Linked DNA regions of Homo sapiens. The protein of the gene in region 1 binds, or shares a complex with, the protein of each later gene. Each region holds a gene or a part of one and is shown on either strand. Other genes may lie near its edges. The genes, in order: BANF1, LMNA and EMD. A codon is read from its position in the direction of its gene.

Region 1 (3,812 bases):
CTGTTGGCCTTCTTAGTTTCTCTCCAACCTCCCCTTTTCCCTAGTTTATAAGACAGGAGAAAAGGGAGAAAGCAAAAAGTTGGAAAGAAACAGAAGTAAGATAAATAGCTAGACGACCTTGGCACCACCACCTGGCCCTGGTGGCTAAAATAATAATAATATTATTAACCCCTGACCAAAACTACTGGTGTTATCTGTAAATTCTAGACATTGTATGAGAAAGCACTGTAAAACTTTTTGTTCTGTTAGCTGATGTATGTAGCCCCCAGTCACGTTTCTCACGCTTACTTGATCTATTATGACTTTTTCACGTAGACCCCTTAGAGTTGTAAGCCCTTAAAAGGGCTAGGAATTTCTTTTTCGGGGAGCTCGGCTCTTAAGACACGAGTCTGCCGACGCTCCCGGCCGAATAAAAAAACCTCTTCCTTCTTTAATCTGGTGTCTGAGGAGTTCTGTCTGCGACTCGTCCTGCTACAACAGAATGGGACAATACAATGCATGTCATGTAAAAGTAACTCCGGCCGGGCGCGGTGGCTCACGCCTGTAATCCCAGCACTTTGGGAGGCCGAGGTGGGCGGATCACGATGTCAGGAGATCGAGACCATCCTGGCTAATACGGTGAAACCCTCTCTCTACAAAAATACAAAAAATTAGCCGGGCGTGATGACGAGCGCCTGTAGTCCCAGCTACCCGGGAGGCTGAGGCAGGAGAATGGCGTGAACCCGGGAGGCGGAGCTTGCAGTGAGCCGAGATCGCGCCACTGCACTCCAGCCTGGGCGACAGAGCAAGACTCCGTCTCAAAAAAAAAAAAAAAAAAAAAGTAACTCCTATAATCTTAAGTACTAGTGTAATATAAAACTATACGCATGCTCCAGAGAAGTCATCCTGGCAACCTCTCTGGAAGGAGTTTGAAATAAACCGTATCTTTCTCAACACGCTTGTACACCCCAAGTCTAGCATAGTCACACAACAGAGAAGTTCAGTCTGGCAACACACTACAGCCGGAGACAAACTAGGTGGCCACCGTGATGGTTCAAGCCAGGAACTAGTTAATTAAAGGTTGAGGTGAGCAGGCTTGTCTGCGACATTTGCATATTTCTGACTTGCGTACTTAGAAGACGAAGGCCAGTACCCTTAAGACTGATGGTTTCCGAAAGAAACACTGTCGTCTCTAGTTGCTGTCCTCCTTCCTCCTCCCTGTCTATCCCGGAGAAAAGACCCTCAGAGAAACACCCACACTTAGTCTCTGGCCCTCGGCTCCCAGGAACGCTGCCGGAGCAACACCGCCGTCTAGGCTGGACGCTGAGAGAGGATCGTCCACGACTCACTTCAAGGCTGAACCAAGAAAACACAGTAAAGGAACTTGCCGGCGGCCGCGACGGTAGCGTCAGTTAGAAATCAGGTCTCCAGTGTTCCCAGTTCCCACCAGTCCAACTGCGAGGAGTGCGACGTGAGTCTGAGTCTGATCCCTCCGAAAACCGTACTTCCGGCGCTGTCTCGGAGGCCTCCCGTCCCCTCCCTTGTCCGTCTTCTAACTCTTCCCCACGCCAGGTCCGTCAAGCCTAAGTCCTTGAGTTCCGGGTCCGGGCAGCAGAGAAAGGAAGTCCTCTCCCTGGAGGCCTATCTCCCTCAGAACTGCGCGAGAAGCGAGACCTTAGAAGGCAGGGCTTCCCGCGAAGGACCGGAAAGGAGCGCCTACTAAGGACGCCGTCGAGGTCCGGGGCGCCTCAACTCTATAGCTCTAACTGGCTAGAAGTGCCCAACGTGGAATGTTTCTTTTTTAAAGGCGGCTCTTGAAGCGACCCGGAAGCGGAAGTGGAAGAAAGTTCTAGTGGCTTGAGGTATCCGCAGGAGCGGCCGGGTGGCGGGAGGAACCGTTACGGGAACTGAAGTTGCGGGTGAGCGCCAGCCGCGGAGCAGGGCCCTGATTGGAGGCCAGAGGGGTTGCGGGGAGAAGGGGAGGAGAGGGGTCGCAGGCGCTGTGGCGGGCCCTGGGGGAGAGCTTGGCCGCGCTGCGGGGAGGGGGCGGGGTGCAGCGCGTGGGAGCCGGGCCGCGGGAAGGGGCGGGCCGCAGCGGCGCGCGGTGGGGGCGGAGCTGGGGCGCGGCGTGAACCCCGCGGGCGGGGAGCGGGTGTGCGCAGCGCTAGGTGTGCGCTTCGCCCTGTAGGTAGAGAGACCCTTTGGTTAGCTTTCCACGCCAAGTGGCCGTTCCAGGCAGGCAGTGTCGTCTTGGTTCAGCCAAGGTCACAGAGGGAGTGATAGCTTCCGCGCAGCCCTGGCTACGGACTCTGGGCATCTTTCCACTGCCCCGCTTGCGCCACCTGTTAGGCAGGATCGTTTTTCCTCTGGGGCAAGATCAAAATCCAGGTCCTGCAGGAAGAAACTCCTCTTAAAAATAGTAGGGAAGAGTCTCCCTGGAACTGTTTTCTCCTTTCAGGATGAGGGGGATCGAGCAAGCCACTGTAACCCCTGGCTTGGCTTCCTCTTACTATGAGATTGCTCGTGGGCCCTTAGAAGTTCCAGGTCTTCAGCCCTAATCTGCCTTTTTTTTGGGATTCCTAGATTAAGCCTGATCAAGATGACAACCTCCCAAAAGCACCGAGACTTCGTGGCAGAGCCCATGGGGGAGAAGCCAGTGGGGAGCCTGGCTGGGATTGGTGAAGTCCTGGGCAAGAAGCTGGAGGAAAGGGGTTTTGACAAGGTGTGGGGTGGCTGCGTGTACCTAGTGCAAGCGGGGGGTGGAAGGGAAGTGATTCCATCTGCTGGGGGATGGACAGTAAGGTATAATCTGAAGAGGCTGCCAGAGCCTGGGCACCTGGTGGAGAGGAGAGGGGGGCAAAACCCGCGCTGCTTCCTGGGCTTGTGTGCTCTGAATGGCACAGGAATGGCTGTCTTGCTCTTATCTCTCACTGAGCACTGAGCAGCACGCTCCTTCCTTTTCCCTGTTTTGCAGGCCTATGTTGTCCTTGGCCAGTTTCTGGTGCTAAAGAAAGATGAAGACCTCTTCCGGGAATGGCTGAAAGACACTTGTGGCGCCAACGCCAAGCAGTCCCGGGACTGCTTCGGATGCCTTCGAGAGTGGTGCGACGCCTTCTTGTGATGCTCTCTGGGAAGCTCTCAATCCCCAGCCCTCATCCAGAGTTTGCAGCCGAGTAGGGACTCCTCCCCTGTCCTCTACGAAGGAAAAGATTGCTATTGTCGTACTCACCTCCGACGTACTCCGGGGTCTTTTGGGAGTTTTCTCCCCTAACCATTTCAACTTTTTTTTGGATTCTCGCTCTTGCATGCCTCCCCCGTCCTTTTTCCCTTGCCAGTTCCCTGGTGACAGTTACCAGCTTTCCTGAATGGATTCCCGGCCCCATCCCTCACCCCCACCCTCACTTTCAATCCGTTTGATACCATTTGGCTCCTTTTTTGGCAGAACAGTCACTGTCCTTGTAAAGTTTTTTAGATCAATAAAGTCAGTGGCTTTCATGACTGGGCTTTGTGCACTGAAAAGCAAGTGGGCTGGGAGTTGCCTCTCCTTCAGGGACTGACCATGTTTCCCTCACTCCTTATCAGTAGAGACCGAAACTGGCAGCTTCCCTTCCACTCCCAGAGGGCAGCCACCCTAGCCATGTAGGCCTCAGGCAGGTGACTTTTGTCTCAATCCCCGAGTGATGTGGGAGAGGGTGTGGGTGGATCTTTTCCTGGGAGCCAGATGGACTGTGCTCCAGATGTCAGTTAAGTCAACAGCTGGGCTAGGCAGCACCTGGTGGAAAAGTCAGTGGGAGTCAGAGGTACCAGACAGGGTGGGCCGGATGTGGGTGAGA
Region 2 (3,600 bases), on another chromosome or scaffold:
GGCCAAGCAGGCCAAGGGCTGTGGGAGCTGCGGGGGAGCCGATCTCTCATCTCCCGGAGCTCTTTTGGTGGGCCTGTCAGAGCCCAAGGAAGGTCCCAGACACGCAGAGTGGCAGAGTGAGGGAGAACTTCCCAACCCTTAGAACCCAGGACAAGGTCATGCTGAGGGGGGGCCACCGCCAAGCCCTTGGGAGGGAAAAGGGGGATTGCCCTGCCTTCCTGACCTCGCTCCAACACGCTGGACAGATGCCAACTTGAGAGTTATGTCTTAGTGGGCATCATGTGTTCAGAGCCAGCTTGGGCAAAGCTAGCACAGTGCCAAGCCCGCTAACAAAGTTCTAACAGGACCCTTTCTGCCACTCCGATGTGTCCTGGGTGCCCAGAGTTCTTCGAGCTGGCAGGGCTAGTTCTGTTTTGCTCAAGCCCCTCCCCCCGGCTCCAAATAGTTGGCAAATCCCAATCTGACCGAATTCAGGCCGGCCCCAGCCCCAACTTGTCCCTGATACCCCCACCATTCCTTATATCCTCCCCGACCCTCTCCCAGAGACCACCACTTCCCTCTCTGTCCTGTCTTGACAATTCCCCTTGACACTGCCAGTCACCCGCTGGGGGCAGTTCCGGGGAGGGAGGAGACTATGGCAAAGTTATCGGCCTCCAGGCCCTCTCACTCCCTTCCTGCGGCCGGCCAGGGGCGCCGGCCCGCCGCCCTCTCCACTCCCCGCCAGGCACGCAGCCACCTGGGCGAACTCACCGCGCTTTCAGCTCCTTAAACTCCTCACGCACTTTGCTCAGCTCCAGCTGCAGGCGGGCGCGCTCCTTGGCTACTGAGTCAAGGGTCTTGCGGGCATCCCCGAGCTCGGCCTCGTAGGCGGCCTTGATGCCGGACACCTCGCGGCTGACCACCTCTTCAGACTCGGTGATGCGAAGGCGCAGCCCTGCGTTCTCCGTTTCCAGCGAGCGCACACGGTCGATGTAGACCGCCAAGCGATCATTGAGCTCCTGCAGGTCCTCCTTCTCCTGCAGCCGGGTGATGCGGGTGGGCGACAGCGGAGTGGAGCTGGCCTGCGCCCCGCTGCGGGTGGCGCGCCGCTGGGACGGGGTCTCCATGGCCGGCAGGTTGGCAGCGCTGCCCGCGGGGCAGGGGTCCCGGAAAGGGCGCGGGGCTCGGGTCGAAGGACAGAGACTGCTCGGAGTCGGAGTGCGCCGGCCGGCTGGCTCTCGGCTTGCTCCTGGCAGGCGTGGGGATCTGGGCCGGGCGCTGTCGGACCTCGGGATCTGGGTTGGCTGGTGTAGGTGCGGCGCTCCCGCGAACACTGAGTCACCGACGCCGGGGCAAAGGCTCTAATAGGTCCTCCTCTGAAGGGAGGAGGGGCCACTACTCTTAAAGGGGCAGTCCCAGATCCATTGGGGGTGGGGGCGGGAGTGGTGAGGAGGGGGAAGGACCGTTGGGGTGTGGCGGAGTCGGGCCCCACCCTCTCCAGCGCACCCCTAACTGCGTGAGGCTCAAGCTTCCCCTCTCTTGGCTCCTGCCTGCTCAGCACTGTCGGCTCCAAGCTTGCCCCCATTGCCTCAGACCTTCTGGGCTAGAGGGCAGAGCCAAGGAGGGAGAGTGGGTGGGCAAAAGGGTCGGGGAGAAAGAGAGGGAAGTGGGCGCAAAGCAAGGGAGAGGGTCAGGTAGGCAGGGCTGGGAGCCAGGAAAGTGGGGGGAGGGCTGAGGCTGGTGCCCATCAGTGTGACTCACCCTTCTTCCACCACTGGCTCCCCCTGTCCTCCCAGTAGTAATAGTGAGTCACCCCAACCCCCCTCCACACGTGGGCAGCCCATTCAGAGCTGCATCTCAGTGTGCCAGGAGTGGGGTGGAGAAGGAATGCCTGGGTTCCCTGGGGGGAGCAAAGTTCTGGAACCTGAGTTCCTTTATGCCCCCAGTTTGGGGCCAGGGATCAAGGAGTTTGGGGGGTCCCTTTTTTTCTTTCTTTTGCCCCAATCTATCTCTCTTCAAAGCCAAGCATTCGTTTTTAGACCCAAGCAACAAGCCACAGTCCCCTAAAGAAGTCCCCTAAAGAAAGCCAAGAATAGGAGCCAGGCACTGCCCCTTCCATCTCCTGTCCCCTTCCTTTGGACCCAAGCACTGCCTGGGTTCCTTCCCCCTTCAGTCCCTTTCTACTGCTTACCGCACCCAGTCAACTTATTTTTTTCCCCCAGAACTGTACTTATTTTAATGGATAATTTAAAACAGATACCAGAGCTGTGCATGCATTCATTACGTTGCCAAGACACTAGGTCCCAGATTTCTGTGGTTCCCAGAGGGGCCTGAAAGGGGAAGCAGGGCTGGGGGCTGGACAGCCAATATTGGGTCTCTATCCTGGTTTCAGCCAGAAAGAAGGTAGTGGGGGGCAAGAAGGTAGTGGGGGACAGGAACAGCAAAGACCCCACAGCCTTGCTGGCTGCAAAGGCCAGCACCATACTCATCTCTACTTTCCTCTCTGGCCAGGTCCATTCTGCAGCTGGCTCTGGGGAGGGGCCAGGCTCTCTCACAAAACGAGATCACTCAGGTCCCCAGGGTTCGCTACCTCAGGCTCTGGAGCCTCCATCCTCAGGCCTCACCAAGGACCCTTTTGATAAGCCTTCCACTCCCCTCCCCTCATCCTGGCCCCTATCCTGGTCCCACCATCCACCTCATCCTCTGTTTGTTTGTTTTTTTTGTTTGTTTGTTTGTTTTTTTGAGATTAAGTCTTGCTCTCTCACCCAGGCTGGAGTGCAGTGGCATGATCTCAGCTCATTGCAATCTCCACCTCCCGGGTTCAAGAGATTCTCCTGCCTCAGCCTCCTGAGTAGCTGGGATTATAGGCACCTGCCACCAAGCCCAGCTAATTTTTTTTTTATTTTTATTTTTAGTAGAGATGGGGTTTCACCATGTTGGCCAAACTGGTCTCAAACTCCCGACCTCAGGTAATCTGCCTGCCTCAGCTTCCCAAAGTTCTGGGATTACAGATGTGAGCCACCATGCCCGTCCCACCTTATCCTCTCTAAGAGGTGACAGCATTGAGGCCTGGGTCCCATCTGCCTGCATGCCCTGCCCAACTGCCTCCCACAGCTTATCCTCCGATGAGCAACCAGGGAAATCAAATTATGTTGCTACCTTGTACAGCTCCAAGATATCAGGGCTTCCCTCAAACACAAGGAAAGCAGGGCTGGACAGGCCCTCAGTTCTGGGTTCTGAAGCCTGGCCTCGGGGTGGATGAGGGACTGGAGTGGGATTAAGGCAGGAACTTTGGTTATTAGGGGAGGGGAACAAGGAAAGTTCTCATCTCAGTGAGGGTGCCTGGGCAGCATGGTGAGCACTAGGGATGCACCCGGATGAGGGGGCCCAGAATATGGCTTCTCTCCCCCAGGGCGTGGCACCCACCCTCAGCTTCCCAGACAATAAAAAGTCTTGTTCTTCTCCACACCAGAAGCAGAGGCAGGAGGGGTAAGCCAGTGAAACGTGAGGGAAGGGTTCATGCTGTTCCCACTGCCTCAGCCCCTCCCTGGCACTCAGTGCCCCCTTTTCCCCTACCCAGCTGCTTGGCCTGGCTTCCTTTCCAGGCTGGGAAAGCTAAAC
Region 3 (3,812 bases), on another chromosome or scaffold:
GAGGTGCTGGGGAATCTGATTTTGTCAAAACTAAAAAATCCACAAGGCAGCCTCTGAGCAGCCCAGAGTCCAAACTGCCATCTGTCCCCTCAGCTCTGAAAGATGAGGTGCAAACCCCTGCCCTACCCAAGGCTCTCCTGCTGCACACTGCCAGGCACTGTCTTCATGGACCCACACTTCCTTCCATATTGCTGGGGACACAGTGGGGCCTTGCCAACAGTGATTCCTCTTTGTTAGGATCTTTGCGTGTAGTCAAAACAGGGCCCCATCTCCTCATTACTCCCCCAGGTGTCTACCTCTTCCCACCCCATGGGCAAACCTCCATGGATGACTGGTCTGTGACCCTCACCAGCCAGGCCAGCCATTCTGGACATGACCAGAGCCCTCCCCTCTTCTTCCCTTGTCACCAGCCCTCAACTGTGAAACTACAGATGGCATGTCACCTCTTCATGCTCCCAGTTTGGGGCCTACCCAGTGAGGGGCACACTAGTTGATTCCATACACCCTCAGCTGGCTTTGTTTAGAATGTGAATGTCACAGCCAGGCGCGGTGGCTTATGCCTGTAATCCCAGCACTTTGGGAGGCCGAGCCGGACTGATCACTTGAGGTCAGGAGTTCGAGACCAGCCTGGCCAACATGGTGAAATCCTGTTTCTACTAAAAATACAAATACTAAATACTAAAAATACAAAGCCAGGCATGGTGGCATGTGACTGTACTCCCAGCTACTCGGGAGGCTGAGACAGGAGAATCACTTGAACCCGGGAGGTGGAGGCTACAGAGAGCCAAGATTGCACCACTGCACTCCAGCCTGGGTGACAGAGCGAGACTGTCTCAAAAAAAAAAAAAAAAAAAAAAGAATATGAATGATGAATGTCACCTCCTTTCTCTTCTCCATGAGACAGCCAATATCTGATCAAGGCCCTGGGAATGGGAATCCATAGCTCGCCACCCACGTCTGCCCCCTGCCTAGCCACGCTGCGCTCAGGGACCATTCCGACAGGAGAGGACGCCCCACTTCAGCTCCCCCCAGTGCCCCGGGTGAATGAACGGCATGAAGGGTTAGGCGGGCACACGTCGTCTCTGCACGCATCGCACGGCGCCCTCTGCCCGCGCCCACTGGCGTGCCCGTCGGCATGCCCGGGCCCCTTCGAAGACTGCTTGCTTCTGGAGTGCCAGCGGCCTCCTGGCCCAGTGCCCCATTTCCTCCCGGGTGGAGCGAGGGAGGAGGAAGGGAAGCAGAGGGGTAGGCGGTGGTAAGCAGCAGGCACATGTGCGCGGGCGAGAGCCCCGCAGACTGGGAAGGCGGGCCCATGGCAGGGGGTCTGCGGGGATCGCGTAGGCGCGGGCCTTGCCCTGCAGCCGCTTCCCGGGCGATGCGCACACAAAGCGCCCTCGGCAGCGCCTGGCCCGGGGCCCGCGCTCTCTTAGGGTCCGGGCCCTTCCCGCCGCTGCTGGGGCGGCCGACCGGGATGCGGCCGGGGAACCCTAGGCTCTGGGGCCCTGGGAAGGGGGACGACGGCGGGGAGTAGGGATGTGCAGGGATCGGGCGAAGCCCAAGCGACTTAGGGACCAGAGCCACCCCAAGCGCCGACTTCGCCCGCTCGCACGTCCCGGGTCCCTCGCGCGCAGGCCCCGCCCCTCTCACCCCGCCGCACGCCACAGGGTGACGTCTGGGCTCCCAGCCGCATCGCCCTGACTCCCGCGCGGGCCCCGCCCCCTGCCGCTAGCCAATCTGTGCGTTTGTGACTTTTGGGCCCGCAGCCCCGCCTGCTCCCACAGCGATACCGGTTTGCATTGCCCTGACTCCCGCGCGGGCCCCGCCCCCTACGCCGCTAGCCAATCCATGCATTAGTGGCGTCCGGGCTCGCAGTACCGCTCGCTCCCACCGCGAGACCTTCTGCTCCGCGCCCGCGCGGGCCCCTCCCCCTCCATCGCTAGCCAATCCCCGTTTTGTGACGTATGGGCTCGCGGCCCCGCTCGCTCCCACCGCGAGACCTTTTGCTCCGCGCCCGCGCGGGCCCCGCCCCCTCCATCACTAGCCAATCCCCGTGCTTGTGACATATGGGCTTGCGGCCCCGCCCGCTCCCATCGCGAGACCGGTTCCCACCGCCCTGACTCCCGGGCGGGCCCCGCCCTCTCCGCCGCTAGCCAATCCTCGCGTTGATGACGTTTGGGCTCGCGGCCCCAGCCTCCCAGCTCTCAGGGCACGGCCGGTCTGTGCCGGCTGCTCCCGCGGTTAGGTCCCGCCCCGCGCAGCGCGCGCAGCCTGCGGAGCCAGCGGCCGTGACGCGACAACGATTCGGCTGTGACGCGACAACGATTCGGCTGTGACGCGAGCGCGGCCGCTCCCGATGCGCTCGTGCCGCCCCCGCCGTGCTCCTCGGCAGCCGTTGCTCGGCCGGTTTTGGTAGGCCCGGGCCGCCGCCAGGCCTCCGCCTGAGCCCGCACCCGCCATGGACAACTACGCAGATCTTTCGGATACCGAGCTGACCACCTTGCTGCGCCGGTACAACATCCCGCACGGGCCTGTAGTAGGTACGCGGCGGCGGGCGGGACCCCTTCCGGGCCCCCTCCTCGTGCTCCGCCTCGCGACCTCCCCGCTGCCCTCCCCGCGCGCCTTCCCCGGCCCGCGGCCCTGACCGCCCCGTGTCCGGCCAGGATCAACTCGTAGGCTTTACGAGAAGAAGATCTTCGAGTACGAGACCCAGAGGCGGCGGCTCTCGCCCCCCAGCTCGTCCGCCGCCTCCTCTTATAGCTTCTCTGGTGAGAGCCTCGCCTGTGGGGACAGCCTGGGACGCGGGGAGGATGGGGTCGCGAGGGTGTGGCAGGGGGGCCGGTCGAGAGCGGCACTGGAGAAAGGGGAGGGAAGTCTGGGGGGGCAAACAGTTCTGTCTCCTCCTTTCAATCCAGACTTGAATTCGACTAGAGGGGATGCAGATATGTATGATCTTCCCAAGAAAGAGGACGCTTTACTCTACCAGAGCAAGGGTAAGGCAGGGGTTGGGTGGGCACGCTGGCACCTTCACCCGACTTCGTCAGGGACCCCGCTCACAGGGAGGACCTGAGACCTCAGTCCCAACCACTCCAGCAGCCTTAGGAGGGAGAAACTGTTACAGGTCCCGAAATGGGATTCAGATTAGGGCCATCAGGCCAGGCGGGGCACACCGATGCCCCCTCTGCTACCGCTGCCCCCCTTCCCAAGGCTACAATGACGACTACTATGAAGAGAGCTACTTCACCACCAGGACTTATGGGGAGCCCGAGTCTGCCGGCCCGTCCAGGGCTGTCCGCCAGTCAGTGACTTCATTCCCAGATGCTGACGCTTTCCATCACCAGGTGAGCTGGCTGGCAGGCGTCCTGTACTTGGGTACAACCTAGGGGATCGCGGCTGTGTTTGGATAAATCCAGGGGGGCACTGGGTACAAATGGTGGCTCTTGGGCCTCCGGGGAGACTCTGTGTGACTAGAGCACCCTGGTCTGGGATCTAGGCTCAGACTCTTCCTGAGAGTCCTGGGGGCAAAAGGGGATGCTGGGGCATGAGCACAAGTGGCAAGGCCCCATGGATAAAGGGCTGAACACCCAGAGCCATTCAGGAGGGTGTGGGTTCCTGGCCTCTAACCAAAGGTCAGAGGGGACTGGCTGGGGAAGTTTGGACTGAGGGACATGACAGGGCCATGGTGGCCCTGCCAGCCAGTCCCCTCGCCCTGACTCTCTTCTGCAGGTGCATGATGACGATCTTTTGTCTTCTTCTGAAGAGGAGTGCAAGGATAGGTGCGTAGTGGGGGAGCCCAGGGACGGGCTGGTTCTGGG

The links.
Region 2: the proteins of BANF1 (region 1) and LMNA are in contact, whole or in part, in a crystal structure (PDB 6GHD), measured with the Homo sapiens proteins. Residues at the interface, in NP_001137457.1 of Homo sapiens: Val11, Ala12, Glu13, Pro14, Glu83, Asp86, Ala87, Phe88; in NP_001393912.1 of Homo sapiens: Ser431, Gln432, His433, Ala434, Arg435, Met540, Lys542.
Region 3: the proteins of BANF1 (region 1) and EMD are in contact, whole or in part, in a crystal structure (PDB 7NDY), measured with the Homo sapiens proteins. Residues at the interface, in NP_001137457.1 of Homo sapiens: Arg37, Phe39, Gln48, Val51, Leu52, Lys53, Asp55, Leu58, Glu61, Trp62, Asp65; in NP_000108.1 of Homo sapiens: Pro22 (codon at 2,519), His23 (codon at 2,522), Gly24 (codon at 2,525), Pro25 (codon at 2,528), Val27 (codon at 2,534), Ser29 (codon at 2,663), Thr30 (codon at 2,666), Arg32 (codon at 2,672), Leu33 (codon at 2,675), Tyr34 (codon at 2,678), Lys36 (codon at 2,684), Lys37 (codon at 2,687), Glu40 (codon at 2,696).

What each region holds. Positions count from the first base shown.
Region 1 is NC_000011.10:66,000,673-66,004,484, forward strand, and holds BANF1 (barrier-to-autointegration factor), read left to right. Parts: upstream 1-1,830; 5' UTR 1,831-1,898; exon of another isoform or gene 1,899-2,398; intron 2,399-2,562; 5' UTR 2,563-2,578; coding exon 2,579-2,701; intron 2,702-2,953; coding exon 2,954-3,100; 3' UTR 3,101-3,477; downstream 3,478-3,812. UniProt on the Homo sapiens protein: Non-specific DNA-binding protein that plays key roles in mitotic nuclear reassembly, chromatin organization, DNA damage response, gene expression and intrinsic immunity against foreign DNA.
Region 2 is NC_000001.11:156,112,425-156,116,024, reverse strand, and holds the start of LMNA (lamin), read right to left. Parts: upstream 1,315-3,600; 5' UTR 1,107-1,314; coding exon 751-1,106; intron 1-750.
Region 3 is NC_000023.11:154,377,030-154,380,841, forward strand, and holds the start of EMD (emerin), read left to right. Parts: upstream 1-2,265; 5' UTR 2,266-2,455; coding exon 2,456-2,537; intron 2,538-2,660; coding exon 2,661-2,765; intron 2,766-2,912; coding exon 2,913-2,990; intron 2,991-3,204; coding exon 3,205-3,338; intron 3,339-3,723; coding exon 3,724-3,773; intron 3,774-3,812. UniProt on the Homo sapiens protein: Stabilizes and promotes the formation of a nuclear actin cortical network. Stimulates actin polymerization in vitro by binding and stabilizing the pointed end of growing filaments. Inhibits beta-catenin activity by preventing its accumulation in the nucleus.